2 linked regions of the Homo sapiens genome follow. The protein of the gene in region 2 interacts with the protein of the main gene of each other region in a pairwise test. Each region holds a gene or a part of one and is shown on either strand. Other genes may lie near its edges.

Region 1 (2,831 bases), on a different chromosome or scaffold from region 2:
CCCACTCAGCTCAACCAAGTTCACCAAGGAGTTCTAAGGGCCAGTTTCTGCACCAGCACACTCAGGGCTCATACAGGACACCCACCCTTCAGCTGTCACCAGCACTCAGAGGAGTCATAAAAAGGAGCATAATTCATTATTTATTACATCAGATTAGGGGAAAAGCATTGTTTAGATGGCATGGTCAGTAGCAAGGGAGGTGCAAGGGCATCACCTGAGAGACTCTGCAAGGAGACGGAGGCCTTGGGGGACTTCCCCAAAGCCTGGGCCTGCTGGGGAGGAGGAAGGGGCCTGAGAACCTGAAGGCTGAGTGAGGCCGAGCACCTGCCAGGAGCACAGAGCCTGGGGGAGAGAGCCTGGCCCTGGAGCAGACCCGTGCCACTACTGAAACCTAGCCCTGTCCACTGGGCCAGGCCTTCTCTATGCTCTAATGATCCCCCCACCCTCTTGCAGCTGACAGTTTAGACGATTTCCCAGCCAGGTGGCATGCATTATAGAAAAGATTTCTTTCTATTTTTTTAATCAGTCAAATATATAATCATAGAACAGGGTGATGAAGACCAGGTTGGGCTGGAACTTGGTTCCCTGACTCATATCGGCTACAACTCCCACCTCATTGCCCCACGCTCCACCTCTGGACAAGAGGTCCACACATTCTGTACCTGATTTACAAACTGTACATGGGAAGCAAGAAGGTTCATTGTTGGAAGCGTTGGTGTAATCCACACCCTCTGTGCACGGGTTACAGGCTCCAGTATGTTCTGATCTATGAGATCCTGGGAAGGAAGAGAAAAGCCAATGAATGAGTCACCACAGAATTCCCAGAGGCTGACAGTGGTGGGGAAACTTCTTTTTTGGCCCTCACTGGAATTGAGACAGAGAAATCCACTCTTCCAGGCTTGGTCTTGTCATCCATTCAGCATCTATTACATACCTTTGACTGGCACTGCTGACAGAAATATAATACAAAATTCAAATTCTATGCAAAATTCAAATTCTATGAGAGCCATATTAAAATAGTAAAAAGAATGAGGCCAAATTAATTTTAACAATATAGTTTTAACCTAAAATATCTGAAATACTACATTTCAACATGTAATCAATACACATCATTGAGATATTTTACTTTTTTTACGCCGTCACTCACAAAATAACATCCAACCTACTGTACATGTGATCTGCCCATGCTGGTCCACCTGACCTGTTTGCTGTCCACTCACCACAGTGGCCCCCTGTCTTCGCTCAGTCTCCCCAAGCCCCCGAAACCTGGGGTTCTCATTCCTTCAGGGCCTTCTCAAGAGCACTCTTCCTGGCTCTCTGCAAGACTGGCCCTGTCCAACTTTAAATATCAGCCCAAATCACCATCCCCGAGAGGCCCCACCAACCTTGTCTATCTCCTGTCACTTAACTATTCTTCATGGTTCCCATCAGGACATCCTGACTGTTATGTATATTCATGTGTCTTTTTTTTTTTTTTTGAGACAGAGTCTTGCTCTGTCACCTGGCTGGAGTGCAGTGGCACAATCTCGGCTCACTGCAACCTCCAACTCCCTGGTTCAAGCGATTTTTCTGCCTCAGCCTCCCGAGTAGCTGGGATTATAGGCGACGCACCACCACGCCCAGATTTGTATGGAACTACAAAAGACCTCAAATAGCCAAAGTGATCTTAAGCAAAACAAACAAAAGAACAAAGATGGAGGCATCGTACTACCTGATTTTAAAACGTGTTACAAAAGTATAGTAATCAAAACTGAATGGTAATGGCACAACAATGGTAAATAAACTGATGGAACAAAATAGTGAACCCAGGTATAAATCAATGCATTTACAGTTGATTGATTGTGAGAAAGATACCAAGAACACAAAATGGGGAAAGGACAGCTCTTCAATAAATGGTGTTGAGAAAAGTAGGTATTGACATGCAGAAGAATGAAATAAGACCTTTATCTCACATCATATGTAAAAATTAATTCAAAATGGACTAAAGATTAAAACATAAGATCTGAAATGGTAAAACTACCACAAGAATACATAGGGGAAAATTTTCATGATGTTGGTCTGGGCAATGGTTTCTTGACTATGACCCCAAAAGCACAGGCAACAAAAGGAAAAACAGACAAATGAGGTTACATTACACTAAAAAGGTTCTGCATGACAAAGGAAACAATGAACAGAGTGAAGAGACAACCTACAGAATGAGGGTCAATATTCAAAAGATCCAAGATTTTGGTTAAAATCCAAAATACACAGGAACTCAAACATCTCAATAGCACACAATCAAATAATCCAAGTAAAATGGATACATGGGCGTGGGACCTGAATAGACACTTCTCAAAAGGAGACATAGAAGTGGCCAAAAAGTATATGAAAAAAATGCTCAGCATCACTAACCATCAAGTGCCAAATATCACTTCACACCTGTAAGAATGGCTATTACCAAAAAGACAAAAGGTAACAAGTGTTGATGATGGGGAGAAAAAGGAATGCTGGTACACTGTTGGTGGGAATGGAAATTAGTACAGCCATTATGGAAAACAGTATGGAGGTTCCTCAAAAAACAAAAAATAGAACAACTATATGATCTAGCAATCCCACTATTGGGTATACATCCAAAGGAAATGACGTCAGTATATTGAAGAGATATCTTCCCTCCCATATGCATTGGAGCATTATTTACAATGGTCAAGACATGGAATCAACCTACGTGTCCATGGATGGATGAAAAGTTAAAGAAAATGTGACACATAGATACAATGGAATACTATTCAGCCTTTAAAAAGAAGGGAGTTCTGTCATTTGTGTCAGCATGGATGAAGCTGGAGGATACTATG
Region 2 (4,587 bases):
GACCCAGCCATCCCATTACCGGGTATATACCCAAAGGATTCTAAATCATGCCTCTATAAAGACACACACACATGTATGTTTATTGCGGCACTTTTCTCAATAGCAAAGACTTGGAGCCAACCCAAATGTCCATCAATGATAGACTTGATTAAGAAAATGAGGCACATATGCACCATGGAATACCATGCAGCCATAAAAAAGGATGAGTTCATGTCCTTTGTAGGGACATGGATGAAGCTGGAAACCATCATTCTGAGCAAACTATCACAAGGACAGAAAACCAAACACCACATGTTCTCACTCATAGGTGGGAACTGAAAAATGAGAATACTTGGACACAGGGTGGGGAACATCACACACCAGGGCCTGTCGTGGGGTGGGGGGAGTGGGGAGGGATAGCATTAGGAGGAATACCTAATGTAAATGATGAGTTAATGGGTGCAGCACACTAACATGGCACATGTATACATACATAACAAACCTGCACTTTGTGCACATGTACTCTAGAACTTAAAGTATAATAATAAAAAATAATAATAAATAAGAAAAAGTATACATTTGCCACTTTATCAGACCACAAGTTGAACTGAAAAGAACTAGGAACAGTGATAGCCTTGAAGGGCTAGCCCATTTTCCATATACTGCCTAACTCACTTTGGTTTGATATACAAATATTATATCATAAAGGTTATTTGAAAAGTTCTATACCTTAGAGATCACCAGGGTATAAATATATTTTTCCATATTGTTCTGTGAGTTTAAAAACTTTATACAAGGTATTGGTATGTATCTATTAATCTAAAATACTTAAATATTTTCATTATGGTCCTTGCAATGGATCTTCCTCTTTCCGCACCTTCCTTCCCCATTGAAGAAGACTCTGCATAAACCATTTAGATTACACCAAATAAGTATCATTTTTCATATTTCACTTCTATTTCATTAAGCAACCCATCTTCCTAGCTTCTTTACTAATTAGCCACTAAACCCCAGGCTTTTCTTTACAGTTCAGTGAAAATACGTGTAGCCTAAGATGTCCTAACTCCAAGGCAGGGGGAGGAGGAAGGGTAGAACTTAGTCAAAAAAAGAAAAGGATGCATGGAAGGATAAGAAGAAGAAACAGAAAGGCTCCTAGAGTCTGCCAAGAGCCCACGTTCTGGCTCACAGGTGGGAGCGCAACCTTGCTAGGCAAGTCCTAGCTTGCAGACAGTATAAAATAAGAGCAGACATGAAGAAAGGAATTCAGGTACCTTCCTTTAAACATATCTCTTCTGCAAATGTAGTCATCCCTGATAAAGTACAATTAGAGGTAGGTAGACGTGTCACAATGAAGTCAGATAACTTTCCTATTCACCATTTTGTCAGAGCTGATAAAATTTAGAAGTGACCAAGTTCTCTGTGTGTTCTTGCACTCACTGAAGGAACCAATAGCAGTAAAACTGTCCCTGTCTCAAAATGGTAGGAAGCAGAGATTTCATAAAAGTTTTCTGAAACTACGTGCCTGAAGGGAGGAGACAGTTGTTAAACCAGCATAGAATCATAAAACTATTTTGTACTCTTAACATGCACACTTCACTCACCCAAAATATTAGTTACGAATTATCCTAAAGAAAAAAAAAAGGGTATGAAAGCAGGTGGGCTGCCATTCTGTATAGGCAGACCACACCCCATACTCTACCTGCGCCCACCACTAGGGCTCTGGGCCCACAGGCGCGGATGCAATTCAGGAGGGAGTTGGAGCGAATGTTGGTGTTGAGAAAGGCCACCACGCAGCCCAGCTTGGCGAGGCCGAACCACACGTGAACGAAGTCCGGCTCATTGCTCATCAGCAGAGCCACCGTGTCCCCCTTTTTCAGAGAGGAATGGTTCAGGAAGACATGGGCCACTCTGCTGCTCCTTTTGTCTACATCCTGATAGGTGTAGATGTCTCCCTCATAGATGATGAAAGGTTTCCGAGGTTGTCTTTTGGCATGACTCAAGAATTTATCCAGCACAGTCACCAGCTCCCCTCTCTTTTCATACTTCTTCAGCCGAATTATAATGAGCACCACCTTCAACACGAACCAGAAGTCATCCCAAAAGTAAGGGAACAGGAGTTTCTGCAAGAAGTGCAGGACGACCATTCCAGCCCCTAGAACTGTTAGCCATGACAGAAGCATGGGGGCAACTGGGCCAGAAGACAGCTCTGATCTCAGCCCCCACCAGCGTCCTTCTCTTCCAGGCACAGCTCTCCACGGAGACCGCAGATCCTCACTACTCAGGGCTTACACCTGAAGTTCTTGTCAGCTTTTCCGGGGCGAAGCGGGATGGGGAGGAATCCTGAGAAACAGAATCGTAGGTTTGCACCGAAAAGGTCGCCCCAAGTGGTGCTGAAGATTAAGCTTGGGTCACTGGGCGGCTGGAAAGCAGGGAGCCTCCGACTCCTGCGAGAAACCAACACAGCCACCCTCAGGGGTCTTGGAATCTACAACCCCAGCGCTGCGCCCTCGCCTCCCAACCGCGACAGCGGCCCGTGCCCTGCGAGTTCCCCAGGACTTTCCAGACCTCTTCTCTGTGAGGGCTGAGTCAGTCCTCCCTGCTTCTGCGACCCTAAACAAACCTCACCACCCTCAGAAGAAGGTCCAGGGACAGAAGCTTTTCTCCTCTCAGGTAGTCTTTCCCGCGAGCTTGAGTTGGAGGCTGAATTCGAGCCGGGAAAAGCTGGGATGATGATGACTGAGAAGCGCAGCGATTTACAGTCTCTACGCACCAGAAACCGCGCAGGGGCTCAGCACCACGTCTCGGTCCGTGGCCTCAGGGCCAGCGGGTTCCAGGGTTCCTGAGCGCCGCCCCCGTCCTGCCCCGCCCAGCCCCGCCCAGTCCCTCTGACGCAACGGGTCCCGGAGAACTGCTCCTTGGTGACCCACGCGCCCGCTGGAAAGGGGTGCCCCTACCCCAGCCGCAGCTCGCACTCCGAGTGTCGTTAGGCTAGCCTAGTGTATTCTCCTCCGAAACATGGTGGGAGTGTTGCCTGCCCACCTTCGGCCTCCAGGCTCAGGGCTAACCACATCCCCTGGCGTGCCGCAGCCGGAACAGCCTGGGCCCCGCCGCCAGCTCCTCCCTGGGCGCGCGTCCGGCCACCTAGAGAAGTGTGGCGCGCCGACCTGCTCACACCCCAGGGAGGAGGCCCCGCGACTGGCGTCTCCGGCGGGGAAGAATGTGACAGTCCCGTGGGGGGAAACCCAGGGATCTGGAAGGCTTGGGGTCACAGGAGAACCAGAGTTGCTGGGATTGGGCGGCGCGGGGGCCCTGGCGAGGCTGATAAGGTATAACAGTGTCGCACAAAGGTCATCCATTGAACCAATTAATAACTAGAAAATGGAAAGAAAAGAACAAACATCAAAAAAACTGCAGGGAGAGAGAGGCAGGGAGGGAGGAAGAGAGGGCAGGAATATTTATGAACTGGACAGATCCAATAATATTTTGTAAGAAAGAAAGGAATATTTGGACACCACAAAATTGTACTGTTCTTTACAAAAAGTATTTTTGAAAACATGTTGATAGGTTGGTTTTTACATTTATATTAGAACTCTATCGTTAGAGAGCTAAGACAGTGCGTTTTACAAAATTTGGCAACAATATTGATTGATTTGAGAGCTTCAGTCGATATTCGTATTTAAAAATAAAAACAAAGTTTATAATGCTATTTGCAGTCCTTAAAAGTAACAAGATCCCCCCTCCCTGAGACAGATCATTTAAAGAATTATGTCTTCAAACTAAGGATTCTAAAGGGAGTGGGGAGGTGGAGTGGAGAAGTAACAAGTTAGTGGAATGGTTAATAAAATTTTATACGAAGATGAAATTTTACTAAAGATCAAAAAACTAAAGAACATTTCATTACACTTTTTTTTTTTAGCAGACACCATCATCCCAGCTGTCTGCTTTTAAGTGAGTATAAATGGTTAATTGCTTGTGTTAAAATAGTTAAGGAAGGCCTCACCTTGTTAGGTGTTTCTCCCTTCTGCCTCATGTTCTGCAGATGGATTCTGGCTAACCTCAGATTCTGTAATAAAAGAAAAACTGATAATTCCAAAGACGAGCTCCAGTTTATTAATCTGAAAATGATTACTTTGAAGTCACAGTGAAGAGCTCTTAAAGCCAAAGGAACATAGGCTCTTAAAGCCCTTTTCTGTAAATGACAAAAAAATGCTTTCTAAATTTACTCAGAAGCTTTGATCTTTTCGATTCAGAAATATCTTTTTAATTAAGAAAATAGTATCAAGTAGTTTATAACTTAAAACATTAGTTTACAACTTGAAAAGCATCTTTGACATTCTATTGTTTTCTCTTCTAGCTTTAGTCTAATTAAGTCACCTCCAAATAACAACATTTAACGAACACAAAAGAATATGGAGCAGTTGGTCTCAGACTTTTGTAGTTTTAATGAGTAAAATCTGTCCTTCTCCAGTGGAAAAAATAATACAGAAAGATAGGCGTGGCATTTCTTTTATTTTGCTGCACTTATTTTTCTTATCATGGACATTCTAATACCATCCTAAGGCATGGAACTAAATTTTTAGCAACTACAGATACAATGAATCTAGAATA

What was found.
Region 1: the proteins of SLC27A6 (region 2) and TNFRSF10C interact in a two-hybrid assay, tested with the Homo sapiens proteins (one large-scale study listed by BioGRID).

The regions. Positions count from the first base shown.
Region 1 is NC_000008.11:23,112,602-23,115,432, reverse strand, and holds part of TNFRSF10C (tumor necrosis factor receptor superfamily member 10C precursor), read right to left. Parts: intron 777-2,831; coding exon 663-776; intron 1-662. UniProt on the Homo sapiens protein: Receptor for the cytotoxic ligand TRAIL. Lacks a cytoplasmic death domain and hence is not capable of inducing apoptosis. May protect cells against TRAIL mediated apoptosis by competing with TRAIL-R1 and R2 for binding to the ligand.
Region 2 is NC_000005.10:128,963,710-128,968,296, reverse strand, and holds the start of SLC27A6 (long-chain fatty acid transport protein 6), read right to left. Parts: upstream 2,810-4,587; 5' UTR 2,160-2,809; coding exon 1,679-2,159; intron 1-1,678. UniProt on the Homo sapiens protein: Mediates the import of long-chain fatty acids (LCFA) into the cell by facilitating their transport at the plasma membrane.